3 separate regions of the Homo sapiens genome follow, and all the other regions are linked to region 2. Evidence: fine-mapped expression QTL. A gene starts in region 2. Each other region holds a variant in brackets. All regions are shown on one strand. Distances are between the middles of the regions.

What was found. PIP is the estimated chance that this variant, and not a neighbour inherited with it, causes the effect.
Region 1: its variant is fine-mapped to the expression of STK17B in whole blood (TOPMed, PIP above 0.99).
Region 3: its variant is fine-mapped to the expression of STK17B in whole blood (INTERVAL, PIP 0.99).

The regions. Positions count from the first base shown.
Region 1 is chr2:196,202,376-196,210,660 of GRCh38, reverse strand. The region is part of intron 28 of HECW2 (HECT, C2 and WW domain containing E3 ubiquitin protein ligase 2); the gene reads left to right. Among named protein-coding and RNA genes, the nearest start is that of STK17B, 35 kb to the right of the region's middle. The variant C/A (reference allele first, on the strand shown) is at 4,943.
Region 2 is chr2:196,167,674-196,175,935 of GRCh38, reverse strand. It overlaps STK17B (serine/threonine kinase 17b), which reads left to right and starts at 4,358. Exons shown (of 8, transcript NM_004226.4): 1 at 4,358-4,603. It overlaps LOC101927454 (a long non-coding RNA gene), which reads right to left and starts at 4,397. Exons shown (of 2, transcript XR_923737.2): 1 at 4,305-4,397; 2 at 3,088-4,031. RefSeq lists silencers at 4,063-4,292, 4,813-5,032.
Region 3 is chr2:195,805,362-195,813,361 of GRCh38, reverse strand. It overlaps DNAH7 (dynein axonemal heavy chain 7), which reads left to right. Exons shown (of 65, transcript NM_018897.3): 52 at 3,491-3,617; 53 at 4,486-4,680; 54 at 6,530-6,622. Among named protein-coding and RNA genes, the nearest start is that of SLC39A10, 150 kb to the right of the region's middle. The variant G/A (reference allele first, on the strand shown) is at 4,263.

The DNA.
Region 1 (8,285 bases), 35 kb before region 2:
GCCTGGGTGACAGAGTGAGACTCCATCTCAAAAGAAAAAAAAATCTGCTTTTTATTCTAATTTATAAAAAGAAAATTTTACAAAAAATTGCTAAGAAATATATGTATATATTAAATATATATTAAAATACCTACATATGTATCAATCCAATGTCCACCCAATGTCCACTACTAGCTGGTCATGGTGGTGCATGCTTGGAGTCCCAGGTACTTGGGAGGCTAAGGCTTGAGCATGGGAGTTTGAGTCAAACCTGAGCAACATAGAGAGATACCATTTCTGAAGGAAAAAAAAGTCAATTACTAAGATAAGCTCTGTTAACATGTTAGAGTATGTGATTTCACTCATTTCTTCAGGTACACACAGGCACACAGACACACACATACACACACACACACATTTTAAAACAACATTCCGTTTATCACATGGAACATCTTTCCATGTCATTAAATATTGCTCTGTAATGTTATCAATAATTCAGTTTTCCCTCCTCCATTATAGGGAGCATTGTCTACTGTCAAAGTGAATTATCAGCCAGTATACCGGAAAATAACCAAGTCCTGAAATACAATGTCACTTTCCTCAATTAAAAGAAAAACCAGGCTGGGCACAGTGGCTCACGCCTGTAATCCCAGCACTTTGGGAGGCCAAGGTGGGCAGATCACGAGGTCAGGAGATGGAGACCATCCTGGCTAACATGGTGAAACCCCGTCTCTACTAAAAATACAAAAAGTTGGCCGGGCGTGGTGGTGGGCGCCTGTAGCCCCATCTACTCGGGAGGCAGAGGCAGGAGAATGGCGGGAGCCCGGGAGGCGGAGCTTGCAGTGAGCCGAGATCGCACCACTGCGCTCCAGCCTGGGCGACAGAGCCAGACTCCGTCTCAAAAAAAAAAAAAAAAGAAAGAAAGAAAGAAAAACCATCAGAACAAGAGATGAGTACTAGAAGGACCCTTTGGGGCCATCTCCTTTCTATATTTGCCCTGAGGTGTCCCTCGTTGGTCTTCCTAATTCCCTACCGCCTGCTGATGAGCTGATGTGGCTTTTCGTGTGGGAGAGAATTGACAGGAGATTCTCATACAGTGGTCTGCTCTGTAGTTGAACCTCAGGTCCAAGACTCTCTTCAACTCCTTTCCCCTCTGCCCTCTCACTCAGTTCTATATAACTGTATTTTAAATTTTCACTTTATTCTGCCATTGAATCTGCATGTACTAACAAAAACATGCCAGAGTTAACCCATCACATCACCATATTAAAGATTCTTAAATGTCATATACCTTTTGGATTGGTCTTTACTTTGGGAGGTGGGTAAATTTATCATAAAAACAGATTGTATTAAAAAAAGGGACTCTTCTGTAATTAATGTAAAACGTCAAGCTATTGAAAGAATTTGTGACTTTAATGGAATGAGATAATCATTCCACTTGCATTCCATCAGCATTGTTGCTGCTGACAACAGAGGACAGGATAGTCCAAGTCAAATCTACTAAAGGTCCTTGAGAGCTATTTCACAAGTCAGATTTTAAAGTGTCTATTTGTGAGTGACAGACATTGCAACAGTTAAAGAATGCTTACCCACTTTTCCTTGGCCTCAAGAGCAAAAACCAGTTTGGGCTCATTTCTTTCCACCAGCCTAGTCCATGACACCATCCCCCCTCACCTGGACTACTGCAGTAGACTGCTGGCTAAATCCCCTGCTTCTCCTGCATCCCACCATTCATTCATTCTGCACTCAACAACCACTGGGATCTGCAAACATCTCAAGGTCACCTCCCTCCCTTGCCTACACCCTCTGGTGGCTTAGAATAAAATCCAGACTCCTTCCCAAGGACTTCCTGTGGGGCCCTGGTCTGCCTCCTCCTGCAACCTCAACATGTACCCTCTCCCCCAACCCATGACACCTACCAGCCTCCTTCTGTGTATTCCTCAAATATGCCAAACTCAATTATGCTTCAAGGCTCAGGGAATTGCTGCCTATAACACTTATCTGCTGGTCCTTCATGCCTGGCTCTTTCTTGTCCCCAAGACTCGGGTTAGAGGTGATCTCCTGAGAAAGGCCCACCAGGCTTCTGTCCTTAGTGCACCTGTCACTCTTTCACCCCTTACTTCCTTCACTAGGCTTGACCCAATTCAGTCATCATGTTCAGTTATTGGTTTACTTGTTGATTATCTGTCTCCTCCTCTGGAGTATAATCCTGTGAGAACAAGTACCTTATCTGAATTAAACATGGCTTTGCTCCTAGCAGTGAGCCCAGTGCTTAGCACATGTACTCCATAAATATTGTTTTTAGTGAATTTGAAATCTTTAGGGATAACTTTGGACCACTCCAGACAAGAAATTCCAAAATCATAATCCAGACTTTCATATCTCTGTATCCATATCTGAAAAGTTGGGATAGAAATTAGCATTTATATTACAAAGTTGTTTTGAAGATTAAATGAGATAACATGCAAAGTGCTTAGAATAAGGCCTAAAACATCATTCAATAAATTTAGCCATTCTTACTATTCTTCCTAATATCTAGCCTTCAGGGCTGGCCGGATACTTTATAGTCTTTAGGTGTGTGAGAAATGTGCCATATTCACCCAGCGTGTTTGTATTTTGTTTGGACTTACAGGGGTTTCCATTCCTGGAACTGTCCTTACTGGACTTTGTTCTGTTTGGTTTAAATTCTTACATTTGAAAAGTATGTACCCTCTTTATCTCTCCCCAGAGGCATTCACAAGTGAAGAAGGTACCTGCTCAGAATGCATAGTTTGAAGAGTTTCTTCTGCTAGTTACCCCAGATACAGGAATTCCCCCCTATGGGAATATTCCACTTTGTATTTACAGATCCAAGTGCACCTTAACCAAAGTGACCTAATGAGACTTTGGAATAAGACATTAATTAGTGAATAGATTAATTCCCCTCACCCGTCTATAGATACTCCTCATGGCTTTACTAAGTGCCGAACCTTGTGGGAGATATACGTTGACCTTAAAACACAGGGAGAGAAGCAATGGATATTTACATGAACAGATAACCAACATCATTGGTCCCAAAATGGAACATGACCAATGAGTAGTTGGAATAGCAAGCACCATAGAATTTCTTTCCATGAATTCACCTTTACCGAACACCTGGTGAAGGTCAGGGCATTGTGCTCTGCTGCCATAAGTTACACACATATTTGTGCCCTACTCTTAATAGGAATTTCTGCTCTAAACCTCATGGCCTAAGAAGGTATTCATGAGGATATTAGATAAATTATGAATATTTTAAAAATTCTAACAAGTTTTACCATTAGTTGTGTTAATAAAGCTACCCAGGCTAACAAAACTATAACTGGATTCCTTTAATGGAATTCGATCACTCTATTTAATTGGTAACTTTGGATTTCTCATGCTGATTTCACGCCCTTGAATTCATCATCTGTCCCTCTACCCATTTCCTATATTCCCTGCCTTATTTAAAGATACCTCTGCCAACCCACTTTTCTTTCTTTCATCCATGAAATAACTGGAAAAGGTTTTTGCAAGAACACTCCTGGCTTCCTGATGTGTCCCTGCCTCCCCATCTGGCCTCAGGTCCAACCTTGCCTCCTGTCCCTTAGGCGCTTGCCCCTCTCAGGTTTCCTGATGATGCAATGTCATGTTCCATCTGCTGGGAACATCCTTCTCCTTGTTGTTGATTCAGAGAAAACCTGCACACCTACAAATCTTTCAAGCCTTGGCACAGATAGTGTCCTCTATGAACCTTCCTTGGCTCTGCTGAGCAAACTTGTAACTCATAGTATTATTAACTGTTTGTATGCAGGGCCACTAATAGCCCATCTTTGGGACTAATGAAACAAAGGTGTCTCCTAGCCTTTTGGAGAAATGCAGCCTGCAGCTAGGGCTCACAATTTGGCAAGCAGAGCCAAAGGAAGGCTGGATTTCAGTTCCTGCTTGCCCCAGAGCACAGGATACACAAACTTTAGAGGGTCTTTTTGCCTGTATATTTTGCTGCCACAGTGTAAACTCCTTGAGGACAGAAACCAGACTTTTCATCCTCATCTCTCAGAGGACAGCTGAATCCCTGGCATGGAGTATATGCTTAGTAAGTACTTATTCAGCGAGTGAAGGAATAAATGAAATATAATGCAAATTGGAAAATTAAGTACATTCACATACAGAGAGAGAAATTAATCAACAAACCAATCTATGGAAATGGAAATGTAACTGATACTTTTGGCTCACTGGATTTATCTAATTGACTTGTCTATCTGTAGGGAAAAAGGGAGGGTAAGCATGTGACCTCCTGATTAACATTTTTGAAGAATCCAGAAAGCACCAAGAGATCTATTAAGTCAGACCAGATGTCTGGAGAATTTTTAAATCTTCTTAATATTGATGCCAGCATGATTTCCCAAAGATGGGTTCAGACCTGCTTTCCTTGAGTGGTTCTGGCTAAATAGATTAAAATGAGGTAAACCCATTATAGCTTTAGTGTGACTGGCTTTGAAAGATTTGAAAAATGTTCTTTTATTGAGACTGAATAGCTGGATGCACTTTTGCTGCCAACATCAACACAGTCCAGGGCCCTCCTGTTATTTTCTGCTAAAGTTTTCTTAGGACATGGAATGGGGTGGGAGTGGGGGTGTGAAAAGCCTCCAAGGATTATGTGTTGCTTGCCATTTTTTTTGTTTTTTTCCTGGCCTTGGCTCATAGAGCAAGTTGATGGTAAATATTGGGCAATTTATTTAACCACACTATTCCTCAATTTCCTTATTAGCAATGCTGTCTTGTTTATAAGGAGTTTTGAAATTTCTGCAAGCACATAAAACACTGGTGCAAATAGCCAATGTAGGTATCATGTTGCTAATCCACTTGATGCCTCTCCAATAGTGGAGACCACCTGCATCAGACTCACTTGGCATATTTATTAAAATGCATATTCCCCCAGGCCCACCCCAAACCTTCTGAATTA[C/A]AATCACAAGGGGTGCAACCAAAAATCTCCATTGTAAAACAAGCTCCTGGAGTGATTTTGATACACTCTAAAGTATCCTTTTGAGTATTTGCCTTCTTCTATTAAGCCTGAGATTGAGCTAGATGGTATGATCACCTAAAAATCCCCTGGTATTTTTCAGGGTTTTCTGGATTGACTCAATCTCAGCCATTTTCCCCAGAGCTACTGCATATTGTGATTGAATTATTCATTTAAAAAATATCTGAAGCTTTATTTTGCCAATCCTTGTCCTCAAAATGTGGATAATCTAGTAGGATGTTGAGGAATAATAGTTCGTAGTCAGAGGTAGGATAAAATTAATACTCAGGCTTCCAAAAGTAAAAGAATGAAGCCATGAGCATTAATCTCCCCGCTTTCAGTTTAATGTTGGACTTTCCCTAGGAGACCCAGAACTGAGGTCCTTTTCTTGATTTGGCCACTGACTCAGCTTTGACCTTGGGAAAACCATTTAATCTTTCCACACAGTTTCCCCCTCCACAATATATGCTTTCCCCATCATCGCGAAATATTTTCCAGAGGAGCTGTTTAGTTTATTAGAAGGAAAGTTGTGTTATGGTAACCATATATTATGCAACCAGATGTAATTTATGAAGCAGCAATAGCCTTAGATTATGGATTAGTAATGCTGATTATGTCTTACGACTGCAGAGGAACAAAAAAGGTTGTCTAGTCCTTCCCTTTGCCTTCCCTTTGTGTTGAGAACTGAAAAGAGTATTTAGGCTTGTGGATTTACTGGATAAGCTTCTAGAGTACCTGCAAAGATACTACAGAAATGGCAAAGAGACATTCAAAGTTCCTGTTTCTCTACTCAGAAACCTGGGAGAATGAAAGAACTGTTGCCAACCCCTAGCTTTGTTTCACCACCTGTCCTGGATAGATGATTCTACTGTATCACACTTAACATCACATTTGCCACCTTTTCTTGAACTGTTTCACTACCTTGAGACCTGTTACTGGTTCTACTGATGCAAAACAAATTACCACAAATTTAGCAGTGTAAAACAACACACATTTATGATCTCACTGTTTTCATGGAGCAGGCATCCAGGCACAGCTTAGCTGGGTCTTCTGCTCATGGTCTCACAAGGCTGAAATCAAGCTGTGGGTGGGGCTGCATTCTCATTTGGAGGACCAACTAGGGAAGAATCTGCTTCCAAGTTCCCTTGGGTTGTTGGCAGCATTCATTCCTTGCAGCTATAGAATTCATAGTAGCTTCCTTCTTCAAATTCAACAACAGTGAGAGTCTCTCTTGATTTTAATAAGAAATCCTAAGGCTTTAAAAGGTGAATGGACTTCATACCCATTACAATAGCTATTATAAAACAAACAAACAAACAAACAAAAAACAAGAAATAAGTGTTGGTGAGGATGTAGAGAAATTGGAACCCTTGTGCACTGTTGATGGAAATGTAAAATGTTGCAGCCACTATGAAAAATGCAATATGATGTTGCACTTCTGTGTATATCCCCCAAAAAATTGAAAAGGAGGACTTAAACAGATAATTGTACACTCATGTTCATAGGAGCATTATTTACAATAGCCAAACGGTAGGAAAAAAACTCCTGTTCATTAATGGATGAATGAATAAAGAAAATGTGGTATATACATACAATGGAACATTATTCAGCCTTAAAAAGGAAGGAAATTCTGACCCATGCTACAACATCAACCTTAAAATATGCTAAGTGAAATAAGCCAATCACAAAAGACAAATATTTTAAGATTCCACTTATATGAAGTACATAGGGTAGTGAAATTCATAGAGACACAAAGTAGAATGGTGGTTTCCAGGGGCTAGGGGGAGAGGAAATGGGAGTTACTATTTAATGGATACAGATTTCAGTTTTGCGAGATGCAGAAGTTCTGGAGATGGATAGTGATGATGGTTGCAAAATAACGTAGGTGTACTAATGCCATGGTACTGTGCACTTAAATATAGTTAAAATGGTAAATGTTATATTATGTATATTTTATCACAATAAAAATACTGAAAAGTTAATCGGGCAAGAGAGATGAACATATGGATCACAAAACAGGAAATGTAAAAAGCAAGAGGACATGGGGGAAAGATGCTCAACCTTATTGGTAACCAAAGAAATGAAAATTGTAAAATAGTATTGTGGTGTCATCTGTTAGTCTAATAGGATAATAAATGTTATTTGTCTGACACACACAGTTTGGCATAGAATTATATTCAAAACGTATTCTACTTTTCTGCTTCTTCCTCCCCTACCCCTGGAACAGAGATAAATCTTTATTTAATATTTTTATTCCAGTGTTTCACAGATGATAGATTATAAACCACTGCTAGGACTCTAGTGTAGTATACAAGTTGAATTTTTAAATAAGTAAAACCTTTTCTTGAGGCTCAATTTGCGTTCCAGTCTAAGGATATCAAATGCAATTCTGAAATGCTTATTGTATCAAAAAAGGGTTTGCCTGCAAAGATTCATTAGATGATTTCCACCAATATATCCCAGAGTTTACAGTACTAGGAGTGGGTGAGTCGGTACTATCTCTATACCCTAAAACTCATACAGTTGGAGTATCCCTAGTCAAAAAATTTTAAATCTAAAATGCTCCAAAATCCAAAACTTTTTGAGTGCCAACATGATGCCACAAGTAGAAAATTTCACAACTGACCTCATATGACAGGGTGCAGTCAAAAACGCGGTCAAAACTTTGTTTCATGAACCAAATTATGTAAATATGGTATAAAATTACCTTCAGTCTGTGTATACAAGGTGCATGTGAAACGTAAATGAATTTCATGTTTAGACTTGGGTCCCATTCCCCAAGATATCTCATTATATATATGCAAATATTCCAAATTCCAAAGAAATCTGAAATCCAAAGCACTTCTGGTGCCAAGCATTTTGGATAAGGAATACTCTATCTGTATTCTTACAATATAACAGATCCTGTTCACATTCCTGTTTTTAATAAGCCATGTGGCCACACACCTGCTTTATTATCCCTTTATTATCTCATCATTCTCATGGGTCATTACTATTTGTGGCAATTCACTGAAGGCAATTAGAGTCAAATCTTGTTGATAGTAATGAAATGTAGCTAACAATACCTCTATTATTAATTGGTCAAACACTATGAGCCAGTCATTCTATTAAGCATGTTTCTGTTATTTCACTTAATCCTCACATCCTTCTCAGACAAGTTATATAACCACCCTTTTAAAGGTGAGAAATACGGGCTCAGAGTTTTAATAACTCACTCCAAATCACACACTTGTTGATAGAGCTAGAATCCAAACCCAAATATGTCCAACTGCAAATCTCTGGTCTT
Region 2 (8,262 bases):
AAGTCCCTCAACTTCTCTCACTGTAGGTTTCTTCCCTTCTAAAACAAGGGAGTTGGGTTACTGAACTGCAAGAATTTTTCTAGCTCCAGACTGCTCTGATTGTCTCTAGCACTGGAAATTTAGACACAATTAGAAGGCACGTTTCTAGCCCTTCAGACCTACACTGCCTAACTTAGTAGCCACATGTGGCCATGAAACACTTGGGATGTGGCTAACATGACAAAATTTTCTATTTTATTTCATTGTCATTAAATTTATATTAAGAAACTGATACTGTATTTAGTTATTGAAAAACTTTATTTATTTTTGAGACAGAGTCTCGCTTTGTCGCCCAAGCTGGAGTGCAGTGGTACACAATCTCGGCTAACTGCAACCTCTGCCTCCTGCGTTCAAGTGATTCTCCTGCCTCAACCTACTGAGTTGCTGGGATCACAGGAACCTGCCACCATGCCTGGCTAATTTTTGTATTTTTAGTAGAGACGGGGTTTCACCATGTTGGCCAGGCTGGTCTTGAACTCCTGATCTCAAATCATCTGCCCGCCTTGGCCTCCCAAAGTGCTAGGATTACAGATATGAGCCACCACACCTGGCGTGAAAAACTTTAGTTTGTTCAAAACAACTTAGGAATGTGAATCTGCTTTTTGCAACAGTAAATTTTGTGAAATCTAAATACAGATCAAGTGTTTCCGATGAAAATTTGGCATCTGAATTGGGACATGCTGTAAGTATAAAATACTAGATTTAAGACAATATTAAAAAAGGAAGTAAAATGTCTCAATAATTTTTGTTGATTACATGTTGAAATGACAATGTTTTAGAAATATTGGGTTAAATAAAATAAATTGTTAAAATTAATTTTATCTGTGTTTACTTTTTAAAATATGACTAGTAGAACATTTGCCAATGTGCGTGGCATTTCTTTTGGACAGCTTTTACAGGACAGGTTATACTCTATAAACTGCAGTGAGTGGTTGGATTGGCATATTGGCCCTAGTTGATCATGGATGTTTTGGAGAGGAAAGCTGTGTCACCCTTTAAGGAAGACACTTGTACCAGTCTGAGTTATTACTCTCATCAGACAAAACTAGCCCCAATTAGCTTTGCTAATAGTGTTTCAAGAGAGTCAGGGGATGTGAGGTCTCTTAGAGTCTCTCTGGTTCTCAGTGCTTTCAAAATTGCAATGTGCTGTAGGCACCATGAGTAAATGCACTGCGACATCTCCATCTGAGTACACTCACTATTCCTACCTCCAGAGAGGGGATCTGTTTGGAGGAGCCTGTCTCCATTCAGTGAGCACCCCTGTTGGGTGGGGGGTTGAGCCACGCCCCTTCAGAGGCTGTTGGCCTTGCCTGCGTCTGGCTACCTTTAGCCTAGCCACAGGTTTCTGGTATATTCAGTTCTAGACAGGTAGTAGAGCTTGTTTTGCCTTTTCCACATGAATTCTTCAGAAGGAGGGTGTGTCAGTGGCAAGAGTTTTGAGTTTGAGGCCTTCTGCTCTGTGCAAAACCCTCCTTTTCTGCATCTACAGGGAGTAAACATGGAATCGGTGAGAATCACTTTCCTTGATCATTATGTGGTCAGTATGCGGTGACTGACTTGATGTGACTGGGGAAGGTCCCTTCCCTGGACAGAATATGGTGAGTGTCGTGCCATTACCGGAGAGGATCACCTTCCCTGGCCACATGTGGTAAGCAGTGACTGGGAACGATCATCGCTCCCAGTCAGTGTGTGATTACTAACCTGGAGTGATCCAGGAGGACCACTGTATTTGTTTGCTTGGACTGCCATAACAAATACCACAGAGCGGACAGCTTAAACAACAGACAGTTCTGGAGGCTAGAGGCTGTTGATCAAGATATCAGCAGGTCTTGTTTCTTCTGAAACCTCTCTGCTTGCTTTGCAAATGGCCACCTTCTTGTTATGTCCTCACAGGGTGGTCCCTTAGTCAGTGTTGTATGTGTCCTAATTTCTTCTTATCAGGACACCAGTCATCTTGGATCAGGGGCCACTCATATTATCTCATTTTACCTTAATTACCTCTTTAAAGGCCCTATCTCCACATACGGTCATACTCTGAGTTCCTGAGGGTTAGAATTTCAACGTATGAACTGGAAAAGAACACAACTGAGCCCATAACAACCGCCATCCCTGGTCGGAATGTGTCATTCAAGGATGGTCAACTTAATGAACTGTGTGGTCAGAAGCAATGACCACAGAATGACCATCAGGTCACCTGGAGATTTCCTACTCAAGGGAATGAGAGCAGGAACATATATCTTTGACACGGTGATGAATGAGTTTAGGTAAATGAGGTGGATGGAGGAATGTATTGACTTCTGAATTTTCCTGCAAGGCCACAGATGTACTGCCTCCTCCTCAGCACCAGGAATTCCTTGTTACTTGAACCACAGTGCCTGAGACCAAGTAAGTGTAGTTGAATGTCCTTGGGATAGTGTGGTAAGTCCTAGTTAACAAATCTGACATCAGGCACAAGGGTTAACAATCTATTTAGGGTCATAAAAGAAACACAAACTATCAGCCCTGCACCAAAGAACATAAGGCAGAGGTGATCAGGCTGGGAACAGAAAGTAGGAATCAGCAGAGTTCTGATTCCTGAAGAGGGTAACCTTCTTAAAGTCAGAAACTGATGAACAGGTATGGATGAGGAGGATGGTGATAAGCTGGAGCTAAGGCAGAAGCAGGAAAATGCAAGACATGACAATATCCCTAGGAGGCTGGCTGGTTACAGCAGAGGTATTGTGACCAAGAGGACTGGCTTACAGTGGTGCCAGAGAGAGAAAAGTCTGTGTCTAGGTGTGAAGTGATCTGGGACTGGATTAGTGACGGGGAGTATGGGGTGAGTGTGAGAAGATTGCTAAAAGCTGGCAATTGATGAAATGTTGAAATTAAGGAGGTCCAAAGTTAAACACACAACCCCAAAACCACCATAATGATGTAATCCTGTGACCCCCAAGAGGTTACTAGTTTTGGTACTGGTGCTGAGACCTCTGGAATGCAACACCTATGCTCATGAAAGAAAAGATGGGAACAGTCTCATTGCTTACGGATTCTTATACCCCAGAAAAGTTAATTCCAGTGTGTGGCATTTTATTTTCATCCTAACTTTAGGCTTCTCTAGTCAGCCCAATTGTTAGCAACAAGAAATTAGATAGATGGAAGCAATATTCTCCATTTGACAAGGTTTAGGGGCAAGACATTATTAACCTGGGAGGAGGAGTTAACCTAAGTAACAACAAACAGACTTCATAAAAGGGCTGTGATGCATTCTATACCTTTATCTTGGGGAAAATGCAGTAGGAAAGGGAAACAGCTAGCTTCACAGGAATTTGCTTGGCTTACTGGGATAGAACAAGAAAACCTGTCCTTTATATGCTAACTGAACATTAAGTCTTTTGAAAGCAAGAGGACGACTCCACTCCCAGTATCCTTTCCCACGGAAGGGTTTTCTGCAATTATCGTAAATGTCCTCTGAAAGCAATCCTAGATTACATAACTAATCCCATATATGTATGAGTATGTGTGTATCCTATACATATAAACTAGGATTATATATCTATGTAAAACATTTGTGTCTTGCACAGAACTTTGAAAATTTCCACTGTCTTCAAAGGATAACAGATCTTGAGTAGGTTGCTGAGGGCTTTCATCTTTTTCCTTAGCACTATAAATGCAAAATCGGCTATTCAGCCTATTGGGACCCTCCCTACACTGCCTTCAGTCAGTGCCTCAGAAGGGACACCATTCGCGACAGCGGACGTTAGCAGTGGGGTCTAGGTTCCATAAATCCCCAACTGATGTTGACACTCCGAGGAACCTCTGCCAAGTTGTAGCAAACTGGGTTCTCCACTTACAGGGTACGTTCCGGTCCTAAGGAAGACTCTCAAGAAGAGTCAGAAAATAGGTCTTTGGTAGGCACTGAAGTTTGGTAACTAGTCGCAGGCAGCTGGGACGAATTTTGCGGCTTCCTTCTCCCCGGTCTCCGGATATTCACACCTCTCGAACTGACCTCTCTGAAGGTGGGAAGGAGTACACAGAGCAGTAGTTCCAGCCCCGCGCGCCCCCTCTGCAGCGCCGCCCCCTCCGCCCCTCCCTCGCGGCAGCCCGAGTGCGCCCCACCTGCGCCGCCACGCCGCCGCGCCTCCCCGCCCCGCCTCGGGCCAGCCAGGCGCCGCACCCTCTCACCGCCGGGCCCCGCCCCGCACACGCGCCCCCGGCCGGTGCCCCGCCCCTCCCGTCACGTGACAGACCCACCCTCCGCACCCGTTCCGATTGGCTCTCCCGACCTAGGGGGAGGGATCTGGCGAACGGCGATGCCCCAGACGCGGCTGCAGTTTTCAAACCGCGACTGCAAGCTTCGGTAGTCCTCTCCGCTGCTGTCGCCAGGAGTCACTTCACGAGAAGCCAGGTCACAACCGTCGGCCCTTGTCTGGAAAAGTAAAAGTGGATCCTGCCACGTTCGGAGCTCCCTGGCGCCTCGCCCGGCTGGAGCTAGAGAACTCGTCCTGTGGCGGCCCCCGGCGTGGGGCGGGACAGCGGCCCCCTGGAGGGGGCAGTCCCGGGAGAACCTGCGGCGGCCGGAGCGGTTAGTGTCCTGCGGGATTGGCGGGTTGGCTCGGGGCTGCGATGGAACCAGCCGCCTCGGTACAGAGACCTCATACGTGAGGAAGGAGGACCCGAGGAGGGTTTAGGCGGTACGGTCCGGCTGAGAGGGGCTTGGACTCCGCCGCCCCTGAGGTGGCTGATTGCTGCTGGCGCCTCTCCGCTTTGCGGCTGGAGTCCGGGTTCCCTGGGGCTCCGCGCGGGGGGCGGCCGGCGGTCCTCCCACCACCCTCCTCAGCCCGGGGCGCGTGTCTGTGTCTGTGCGTGTCCGTGTGTCCCCGTGCGCCCTCCACCCGGCCGGCCCCGGCTCTCCCCAGGTCGCGCCAGGCAGGGCCCCCTTCGCGGCGGGCCCGCGCGGGTCCCTTCCACAGCAAGGCCACGCGGTCCCCCTAGCCTCTCCCGAGTCCCAGCTGCGGCGTGGGCGCGTTCCCATCGGGACTCGTGGACGCGTCCTGCTCCCAGCTGCCTTTCGTCTAGAGAAAGTTCGTGTTCATCTTGTGGGACGTTTTCAGTTACTGCTTGGGAACAGTGTTTTAAAACCAGCGAGAGATCAAGACGGGCTACAGCTGTTTCCGTGATTTTCAGCGATCTGATTTTTGCTTTGATGCCTTGTGACCCACTTAGTGTGCACGACTCATCCTCAAACTATACCACTACTGGATGCCAACGATTTTTGACATTTACCCAGGCTCTTTGTTTTATTGTAGGGAAAAGCGTTTCATTTGAATTTCCTCCGAGGGAGAAGTAGAGACAAAGTTGAAAGAGGCTTTATAGCAGCTGGTAGCTGGCATTAGTTTCTGTCTGGACTAGAGGCACTCTGACATCAATTTGGAAATTGGAATTAAGAAAATACGTTTTTAAAATCGTAATACTTATCAGATTTCACTAATATTTAAACACATGAGGACTGTGTATCACATTCACCGATTGTTTTGTCGACGTAATGTTTACATCTGTGGTGCTAATGATAAGCAGAACCTTGCCAGGGACGTTTGACGTGGTGTGGCCACTTTACGTTTTCAAGTCTATGAGAATGTCTGCGCGGAGACAGCATAGCTCTGTAGAAATGAGTGGCAGCGTATGTAACCTGGCATTTTGAACCCAGGAGCACAATTTTATTAAAGGAAAATAAACCTACTTTCTCATTGATAACACTGTTTTTTAGTTTTATGGTGAACTGTTCGGAAGTAATTTTCAACAAGTGCTTATTTTATAAATATTAGACCGTGTACCCCTAGGATTGTGTATTTTTTAAGAAAACTGGTCCATAGAAGCGGTGCAAAAGTTTTAAACTCATCTGCCTCGGATCCTCCTCCTCTGAGCAGATGCTCAATTAAACTTTTTCTAGTATCTTAATAATTGGAGGTATTAATAGATGTTTTATTTTTGAGATACATATTGTACATTTTAGATCTTTTTTTTTTTCTAAAGTAGGGATCCAAAATTGAGGTGAAATATATTTGCTTACATGGCAAGACTTTTTAAAAGTAGAATTTCTGTAATTGAAGACCATCCTTTTTTGTGTGTGAATAGAATGGTTGCGGTTTCTCTTGGGATCATTGATTAGTGAATTACGATTTGGTTAAGATAGAATGCGTTTTTAGGAAGTTGGAGGTTTGACTAATCGCTGTGTTAGCATATGAGTAACAAATTTGAAGAAGATACAAGCATTTTTATGGCTGACGTTTCTAATCAGATAATTTTATTTTTAAGCTTGCTCTGTTTTACTTTTGTTAAGTGAACATTTTAACATGTTTTAAAGCTCTTTGATAATTATAAGGGAGAATTTCCTTATGAAAATATTTTTGCTTTAATTTTAGAGACACAAGAAGTCAAGGAATTCAGTTAATAACACTTTCACTTAATCGTTAAATTGCCTTAAAATTGCATGCATAGTATATTGTAATTCACATTTTCTGTATGTAAGATTGGCAGTTAAGAATAGTATTCTGGCCGGGCGCAGTGGCTCAAGCCTGTAATCCCAGCACTTTGGGAGGCCGAGGCGGGCGGATCATAAGGTCAGGCGTTCGAGACCAATATGGTGAAACCCCGTGTCTACTAAAAATACAAAAATTAGCCGGGCATTGTGGCGCGCGCCTGTAGTCCCAGCTACTCGGGAGGCTGAGGCAGAAGAGTTGCTTGACCCGGAAGGCCGAGGTTGCAGTGAGCCGAGATCACGCCACTGCACTCCAGCCTGGGCAACAGAGGGAGACTCCGTCTCAAAAAAAAAAAAAAAAAAAAAAAAAATAGTATTCCTAGGCTTACTACTTTTAAAGGATACTGATTGATTCTTCTTTTCATAAAGAAATCTTCTGCACTGTATGGGTATTTGTTTTGTCAGAAACATTAGCAGTCATTTATCTACTACCTTTCCACTTAGGAAAACTTCAAATGTCAGTTGCTTTAGTTTTTCATAATATTGATGACAAAATTCAGTGATTTTATGTTTAAGTACTGTAGTTTGTATTCTATGCTGGGCTGTTATCAAAGGCTATTTCTTTGAATATTTCAGTTAAGAAATGTTCTTATAAAGTTACAAGCATGTATTTTTATTTAAATATGTTGTAATGTTGCAATTTTCAGGGCATACTTTATTAAGTTTTTTATTATCCTTTTTCCAGAACATTTAACCTCAAACTTCAGTGCCATTTAAAACATATATATTAGTTTCTTTTAATATTTATATGCATTGTATTTTGGTTCATCCCTGACCCTTTGCAATTACTCCAAAAGAGGGTGTAGTGATACTGTAAGCATTGAAAAATTTTAACAGTGAGATGGTAATTTCCTCTTTAATCCTTAAAGGCAGATTCCATTTTGCATTGTAATAGTTACTGAATAAATAGTACTTAAGCGGTGCTATTAAGTAAACAATATTTTACAACAGAAACCCAATTTTCCGTCTTGTGAGTGACAAGCACCATGCATTTGTTGCCCACCCCGGAATCCCCCACTCTATTTCCGTTTTTCAACCTTTTATCCTGGTTCACAATTAACAGGTTTAACTCTTTTTCTGGAGGTGGGAAGACACAGCATTAGGCCTTAGGGTCTTGGCACAGAGTCAGGCCTAGGAGTCATTGCCTGACACTTCAGCCCTTGGATAGTATATACTAGAATGGTTGGATTAGAGTTAGTTTAGCTGACTTCCTATTGTGATTTTTAGAGGATTAAGTTTATGAATTATATTTTCTGTTCAAAATATTTTAAAAAACAAAACCTGTTGGCAGAATACATATGAGGAATATAATCTCTTCCTTGAAATTGAAAATCATCATCATTTCCATCTTGATACCAATACTTCTAATCAATGACTAATTAAAAACACATACTTCTGCCACACCAGGAGAAAGTTCTTCCTTTACTTTTGATGGACGTTAAATCTCTTTTTCAGTTTCCTAGGGAAAGCTTGCTAGCAGTAAATGCCTTAAATGCCTATGTAGAAAGGAGTTGCTTCCCTTAGAATCTTCGGGCTTACTTTGCTTCCTGTTGCCTTTCCAATGTACTTCATGATGATCTAGACTTATCAGTGATAAATCTTGATAGGACACTTACCTGAATCTCCTGATTTTTGGAGGCTCTTAAAAGAGTGATGTTCTTAACTGCAGTAGGTATTTGTATTAGTAGCTTATATTAAAAACAAGT
Region 3 (8,000 bases), 360 kb after region 2:
AAGGGTTTATATTCAACGAGAGGAGGAAGTACCTATAATTTTAGGTTTTCTAAATTAAGAAAAAAAGGAGGGAAGGAAAATCTCTCTCCTTATTTTCAACATAAAGAATTGAGTCTCTTATTTTCAATTTTTACTTGTCCTAATACTGTAACACAAATCATTTATCCATTCTACTGTTGAGGATATTTGGGTAGCTTCCAACTTGGGGTTATTATGAAATTTTGCTTCCTTGAACATTCCTGTACATGGCTTTTGGTGCCGATATGTATCTGTCTTTGGTGGGTGTATATCCAGGAATGAAATTGATGACCACAGGGCATGGTTATATTCCCTTTTAGTAAATACTGCCAATAGTTTTCCAAAGCATTATACCAAGAGAGAAACTTTGATCAGTCCTATTTAATCTTTTTTTTGTTGTTAAAGTAAACTAAGAGTTTCCAATTAAGAAGCTAGCTCCCAAATCAGAAATTAAAAAGAGAATGAGTTCTCACAGAAATGATCTGTTTTTCTGCCAATCATTGATAGTCATCAAATAACTGGTAGACTTCAGGCAGTTATTGGACGATAGTTCTACCAAAAGCATAGAAAACATGTGACTATTAACACTAGCCAACCTGATTGTTTTAGAATCTTAATATTGGTCTAAAATTATTTCTCATTTCTTTTTATTTAGGGATATAAATGTATTTCATTCTTGTTTGTCTTCTGGTAGTGATTATTATATGGTACCAAGAATGTATTATGTTACGACTAGTATGGTATATACTGTGCAATTGCCATAACTTGGATCATCTGTTATTTATAAGATTTTAATGCATTAGAATTTATGTAACAGAATAAATAACTTTATGTAGCAAGCAAAATAAAACAAAAATAACATAAATATAGAAACCAAATCTAACTAGGATATGGTTTTGTTAAATATCCTGGAATCAATCTGTTGCTGTACAAATATGCATGTATATGTAATTGTAACCACCCAATGGGTTCTTCCTGTCTGCCGCCCATAGAAAATCAACCCACTGAGACCATGACATTGTGATAAAGAAAGAGTTTAACTGATGTGAGGCCAGCCACACCATGCTGAAGATGGAGTCATTACTCAAATTAATCTCCTGAAAATTCGGAGGCTAGGGCTTTTCAAGGATAGTTTGATGGGCAGGGCGTTAGGGAGGAGGGCATGCTGATCGGTTGGAAACACAATCATAGGAACTCAGCAAGGAAAACAGTCTTCCCTGAGTCTGCTTCTGGGTGGGGACTGCCAGAGGAGTTGCTGGTCTAGGTGAGGCCATCCAATAGTCAGAAATGCAAAAGCCTGAAAAGATAGCCCAAAAGGTCAATCTTAGGTTCTACAATAGTGATGTTATTTACAGGAGTGATTGGGGAAGTTGCAAATCTTACCACCTCTGGTATCATGGCTAGTAAACTAAATTTCTTCCAAAGTTAGCTTCGCCCATGCCCAGGAATGAACCAAGACAGCCAGCCTGTGAGGCCAGAAGCAAGATGGAGTCAGCTATTTCAGATTTCTCTTACTCTCATAATTTTGCAAAGGCAATTTGATAATTACGCACACAGTTTTTTTTTTCTTTCACTTCTATCAAGACCATTCTCTCATGTTATTAAGTATTCTTCTGAAACATAAGTTTTAGGAGTTGCACAATATACATACCATTGTATGAATGTACCATAATTTTTGTATTATAAGACTTTTGGCTGGGTGGGGTGGCTTACACCTGTAATCCCAGCACTCGGGGAGGCTGAGGCGGGCAGATTGCTTGAGCCCAAGGGTTCGATACCAGCCTGGGTGACATGGCAAAACCCTGTCTCTACAAAAAATGCAAAAATTAGCCTGGCGTGATGACATGCACTTGTAGTCCCAGCTACCTGGGAGGCTGAAGTGGGAGGACTGCTTGAGCCCGGGAGTTCTAGGTTACAGTGAGTTATGATCATACCACTGCAATCCAGCTTTGATGACAGAGACCCTGTCAAACAAACAAATAAATAAAAACACTTCTAAGTGGTCTCCAGCTTTTATATTGTAAGTAATGCTGCAGTAAATATAAGTGTCTGCATCTTTGATTATTTTCTTAGGCTGAAATCCCAAAATTAGGACAAAGGTGTTCACTTCTTGCAGATTCCTGATATAAATTCCTTTCCTGGAAGATTATTCAAACACACAATTCCATCAGAGGAATATGAATGATCCTATATCACTGTATCACTCACCAGCATTGAGAATGATAATTTTAATCTTCTTTTTCACCTTAAAAGGTTATTAACATATCATATTATATGTCCATTTTTACTAGTGATTGAACCTGAACTTATAATATGATTAACCTTTATAATTTCCCTTCAATCTTTCTGTCTACAAGAAGAGACTTGTTTTAAAGTGCAGAAAATTTTGTTTTACTCTGAAAAGACCAAATGTGAGTCACCCTGTATTAATTGTATGGTACTGCTACAAGTGAGACAAATTCAATGCCATGCATGAAAAGACAACCTATTAGCATAATAATGGGGACAGAAATAGTATGTTTATTTTAAGTCTTCTAAGAATTCAACTGTATTTTAGCAACTATTGCCAAGGCTTTCTCTACAAAAACCTTTTTTTTGAAGTTCCCAATTAAAAATAAGATACATCAATTTGTTGTAATTCTCTTTATGGGAATGCTGCAGGGGATAAAATAGTTAAGAAAATAGGCACGTAAGGAAAAGTGGGAAAAAAAAAAAAAAGCTAGGATGATTGACAGCTTAGAATATCAGTTAGGACATTGCCAAAATTAGCCAGGCATGGTGGTGCACGCCCGTAGTCCCAGCTACTTGGGAGGCTGAGGCAGGAGGATGGCTTGAGCCAGGGAGGTGGAGGTTGCAGTGAGCCAAGATTGCATCACTGCACTCACTCCAACCTGGGTGACAGAGTGAGACCCTGTCTCAAATAAATAAATAAATAATAAAAAGGAAATATTGTGATTATTCCTATTTTCGTGTTTTGCCTCTAGCAAATAAAAATGGAGTTTGCCAAGTTTTGTGATTTCTTCAGCTTTTATGAATTTATAATGAGTAGCACAATACTAAATTTAATAAAGAAGCTACTAATTTTAGACTATTCATTTAATATACAATATAAAACATTTGAAATTATTTGTTATAAAGAGGTCAAATTTTACCCCCAGAAATGCTTTGTAGATAAAAACAGTCTGTAAACTTTTTAATCTAACAGATTAATATACCATCCACTAACTTTTTTCCAAGAGGAAGATTAAGTTTTAAAAAAAAAAAACTCAGTCCACAGTAAAATGCAATTGGACTGAAGTGTTTCTACATTGTGTAGCTCTCAAATTGGTACACCCAATTAATGAGGATTCTTGATTGTTTGGGGGGTAATTGACCAGAAAGTTTATCAGAAGAACATACATGTAAGTTTCTTAAGAGCATTATCTTTAAAGTATATTTTTATTTATTTCCTTTATTTTCTGTTGACCCTTAGGCTTCAGATTCTCAAGGATCACTTTACTTATTCACTGTATGTTAATGTCTGCCGGTCACTCTTTGAAAAGGATAAGCTGCTCTTTTCCTTTTGTCTAACCATAAATCTACTGCTGCATGAGCGGGCGGTCAGTACTGTTTTCATTTGTAAGAAAAAAACCCTTAATAACGCTGATTCATTAATTTATTAATTTGTATGGGAATATATATAAAAAGATTGTAAATAGTTAAGCAATAATACTGTTTGTTATTATAGTTAAGGCAAGATGTTATCAGGAGGATAAATTTCACAGAAGTGAGATATAAATTAAGCACAGATTTCATTATGTTACTATTAAATTATGTTTTATTTTAAAATAAATTGATTATATTAGATTTTCATACAGCTATGCATATAAATTTACTTAATATTGATACGTTTACACCAGGTAGTAGTGTAAATGTTTTTAAAGACTTGTGCAAATTACTGAAATCTGTGTAAAGTCACTATTTTATACACTTACGTGTTTAAGATTTATGGATTTTATATGGTGATGTATTGGTTGAATTCTGAAGAAATAAATACTTTATTCTTGCATTTCTTGCAAAAGTTGTGTATCAGTAACTCATTATACTTTATGGAAAATAGTCAAAAACATGGCACATTGATGGGTTTCTGCCTTTCTACAATTTCTAGAGCCAATAGGGCTCTAGGCAGTCATTTTGGAAAACACGTATTCGAATAGAACATATTCAGATTTTCACATTTAGACAAGTAATTCTGGAGGAAAATT[G/A]TCAAAAAGTAACTATTTGAAATGGAACTATTTTGAAAACTGGTTATCATGAGTATACTGGTTTCCTATGAATAAATATTGAGCTATAACACTAGCTATAGAATTTCATAGAGACCACATCTGAAACTTGGAAGTCAACACTCAACTCTTTTATAATGGTTGTAAGCTTACTAGTTTATGATGAACTCGTTTCTGACTCTTCACGCTGCCTTGTTTTCCAAAGATTAATAAAGCTGAGTGGAGATTTCTGCTAACTGGTGGCATTGGACTGGATAATCCTTATGCCAACCTTTGTACATGGCTTCCTCAGAAATCCTGGGATGAAATATGTCGATTAGATGATTTGCCTGCCTTCAAAACCATTCGTAGAGAGTTTATGCGCTTAAAGGATGGATGGAAGAAAGTATATGATAGTTTGGTATGTTTTAACCCTCTCACTTATTCCAATGTTTTTAAATGGAGAAAAGAATGTTAAGTATCTTTTCATAAAAGCAAGATTTAAATAAGCTTTAAACAACTGGTCACATGTTAGAATGCAAATTTTGATTTATGTTATCCCCCCTTCTAAGTCAGTGGTTCTGTTTGAACTTCCATTCAAACTCCTTGAAATGTATTAAGATGCAAGAATGCTGTGTGGTTCTTGAGAATATACTTGTTGAATTTCCATGCCAGATTTTTATTCATTATCAATGTAGATTTTGGCAATCCTAATAGCAGATGAGTTAAAGTTTATGGAACAGCTGTTGTTTAGATTTTCTGAATGCAGGATACAAGCTGATAAAATTCTGTGTGTGTGTCATTTGAGAAAAGGAAAAAGCTTGTACAGTAGTTCTAAAACAACTTTCACGAGACCTTGTTTTACTAACTGGGGAGTATTATACTTGACACAGACATAATATTCACAGTTTCCCATCTGGGATATATAGCAATTGTTGCTTTCTCTCAATTTTTCTTTAACACAAGGGCTAATATTTTTCCAATTCCCAGTTAATTTTTTCTATTCCTTTGTTTCTACTCTCTTGACTTCCTGCTTTCTGTGAGTTTAATATGCAAGAGCTCTCCTAGGGAGAGGTTGGAGGAAAGAAAGCTAGATATGCAGAGAGTATGTTTTGTTTGGTTAACCTATACTTTATTTTGTTACCTATACAACCTATATTGTTGTATTATATGTGAGAATGAGATTATGTCTTCACACGAATTCAAATATTTGGAAGTGATCTCTTTTGGATTTCTCCTTGTTAGTAATAAAAATGTTTTCTAGAGACAAGTATGTGTTGTGAGTACCTCAACTAATTTAAAATTAAAATTTTATTACTATGCTGAAGCATGAAGATTTCTAATTTGAGATACCACATAGCTTTTCCTAAAGTTTCACAGGTACACGTTTCCTTTTTTCCCCACCAAGGTTTACCCCTTCTGGTACCCTGATGGCTCTCTTCTTGTGATTTTTTAATAGCTCTCAATTGGCTTCTTCATTACACACATTCTCAAGTCTTCCTTTATAAAACAGTATTTTTAAAAAACAAGAAATAATACAATAAATTTCAGTACAATACCCTTTTTACTTGTTTTGAAATATTTATTTATTTTTGTAAATAGATGATGAGGTAAGTGGGTAGGTTTTTAAAAATGTTTTTGTTCCAGCTGGGAGCAGTGGCTCATACCTGTAATCCCAGCACTTTGGGAGGCCAAGACAGGTGGATCACTTGAGGTCAGGAGTTCAAGACTAGCCTGGCCAACATGGTGAAACCCCATCTCTACTAAAAATACAAAAAGTTAGCTGGGTATGGTGGTGCACCACTGTAATCCCAGTTACTCAGGAGGCTGAGGCAGGAGAATTGCTTGAACCCAGGAGGCAGAGGTTGCAGTGAGCCAAGATCACACCACTGTACTCCAGCCTGGGCGACAGAGCAAAACTCCATCTTAAAAAAAGAAAAAAAAAAAGAATGCCTGTGTTTGGAGGAATAAAGGGAAAATAGTAGCATATGCACATTTACTTTTTTCATAATAGGGATCATTTTGTCTGTTTATTAGTGTTCATGTCGACATTAACCTGATTAGTTCATGTCCTTGTTTTGACTCCTTTAAAGAATATTAACTTTTCTTATTATTATTTATTTTATAATGTCCCAACTTTACACTAAATAGTAAAATTTAGACAAGCATTCTTGATTTCATTTATATATTCTAAAAGTTGGTTTATAAGTGAAAATACTGTTCTCTTTATAATCTCCAAAATAACTGAATTATTTACACTGTAATTTTAGGAACCACACCATGAGGTTTTCCCTGAAGAATGGGAAGATAAAGCAAATGAGTTTCAAAGGATGCTTATTATTCGTTGCTTGAGGCCAGACAAGGTAAATGTGGGCTTTGAAAACAGCTCAATGATTCCAAAGCCTTATGCCTGCTCAGTCCATCCAAATGTGCGTTTCCTTATGTAATCATGGGGGAGGTAGAGGAGCCTGCGGGAAATAATCCCACTTCTTTCTAATGCAGACATTTTTTTCAAAAAGTTTGTATATTTTTCTAAAACCATCCTAAATCAGTAACTAGTTGGATTATATTGTATAATTTTATTTATTTTGTGATTATTTGTTTTTAATTTATGGTTTTCAGTACTCACAATCTACTCCCTTTACATATTTGTAGTCTTATCTTTACTGTTAATACTTTGGTGAAATTAGTCAGTGATGTCAACATCAAGCTGATAGACTAGAATCTGTGGACTTCTCAAGTGCTATCCTTATATATAGTTTTTTGTTGGAATTTGAATTTAAGACATTCGTCATTATTGACAACAAAGGAAAATGTCAATATTGTTACTTTTAACTTCTTTAAATAATAAATTATATAACCAGTGAATCAGCAGACCTGTTATATTAGCAAATGTCAGTATTCATTAACATCCTCATTTGTATTAGATAAAAAAATTCACCTATGAATATTGACCGATACCACAAAGATATCAATGTGCTCTAAAAAAAAAAAATAGACATTAGCTATGTTGGAAAAAATTGAGAAAATATCCTAGTTGTCCATTATTACCACTCAAATTAAAGTTTGACATAAATATTTCAAAACTTATATTCAGTTTCATCTGTTAAGGAATAGGAGAAATATCTCCATCCTAACCAAAAGAAAAAAAAATAAAGCAGAATTTAGATTGTCAAAGTAATGTATTAATTTTTTAAAAATACACATCAGTGATAATATGGGTTAGGGGCATTTTTCCCTCTATGAGCCCTACTCTGTTCACTGAACACATGTAATTCTTGCATGATGTGGCAGTCTGTTCTTAGCCAAGGCCCAAGTATCCATTAGGCACAGGAGGCACAGTGCTTGGGAACCAGAATACTTCCAGGGGTCTATGAAAATGTTGTAGTTTCTTTTAAAATCAGAAGAATATAATCCAGTGTGTGTATATTTGTCTTTATACCAACAATGGTAAAATATAATTTTTAATTTTTTTTAAAGGAGAAAGGGGCCTATGAAGTACCTTGGGTCCACGAAAGTCACTCTGCTACCCCACTCTCTTATGCTGGAAGTAACTACAGTAGTTTAGCATTCTTTATGACCCTGGTGAGACATCCTACCCCTTGGTAGCCCTTTTAAAAAATGTAATCTCCATGAAAATGCTAGTGTTAAGCCTCACAAGTTTTCACTTCATATGTTAAAGATGGGAGAATATGAGATGCTTCACACTGTTGTTTAATGTGGCTTCCTCCTCTAAAACAT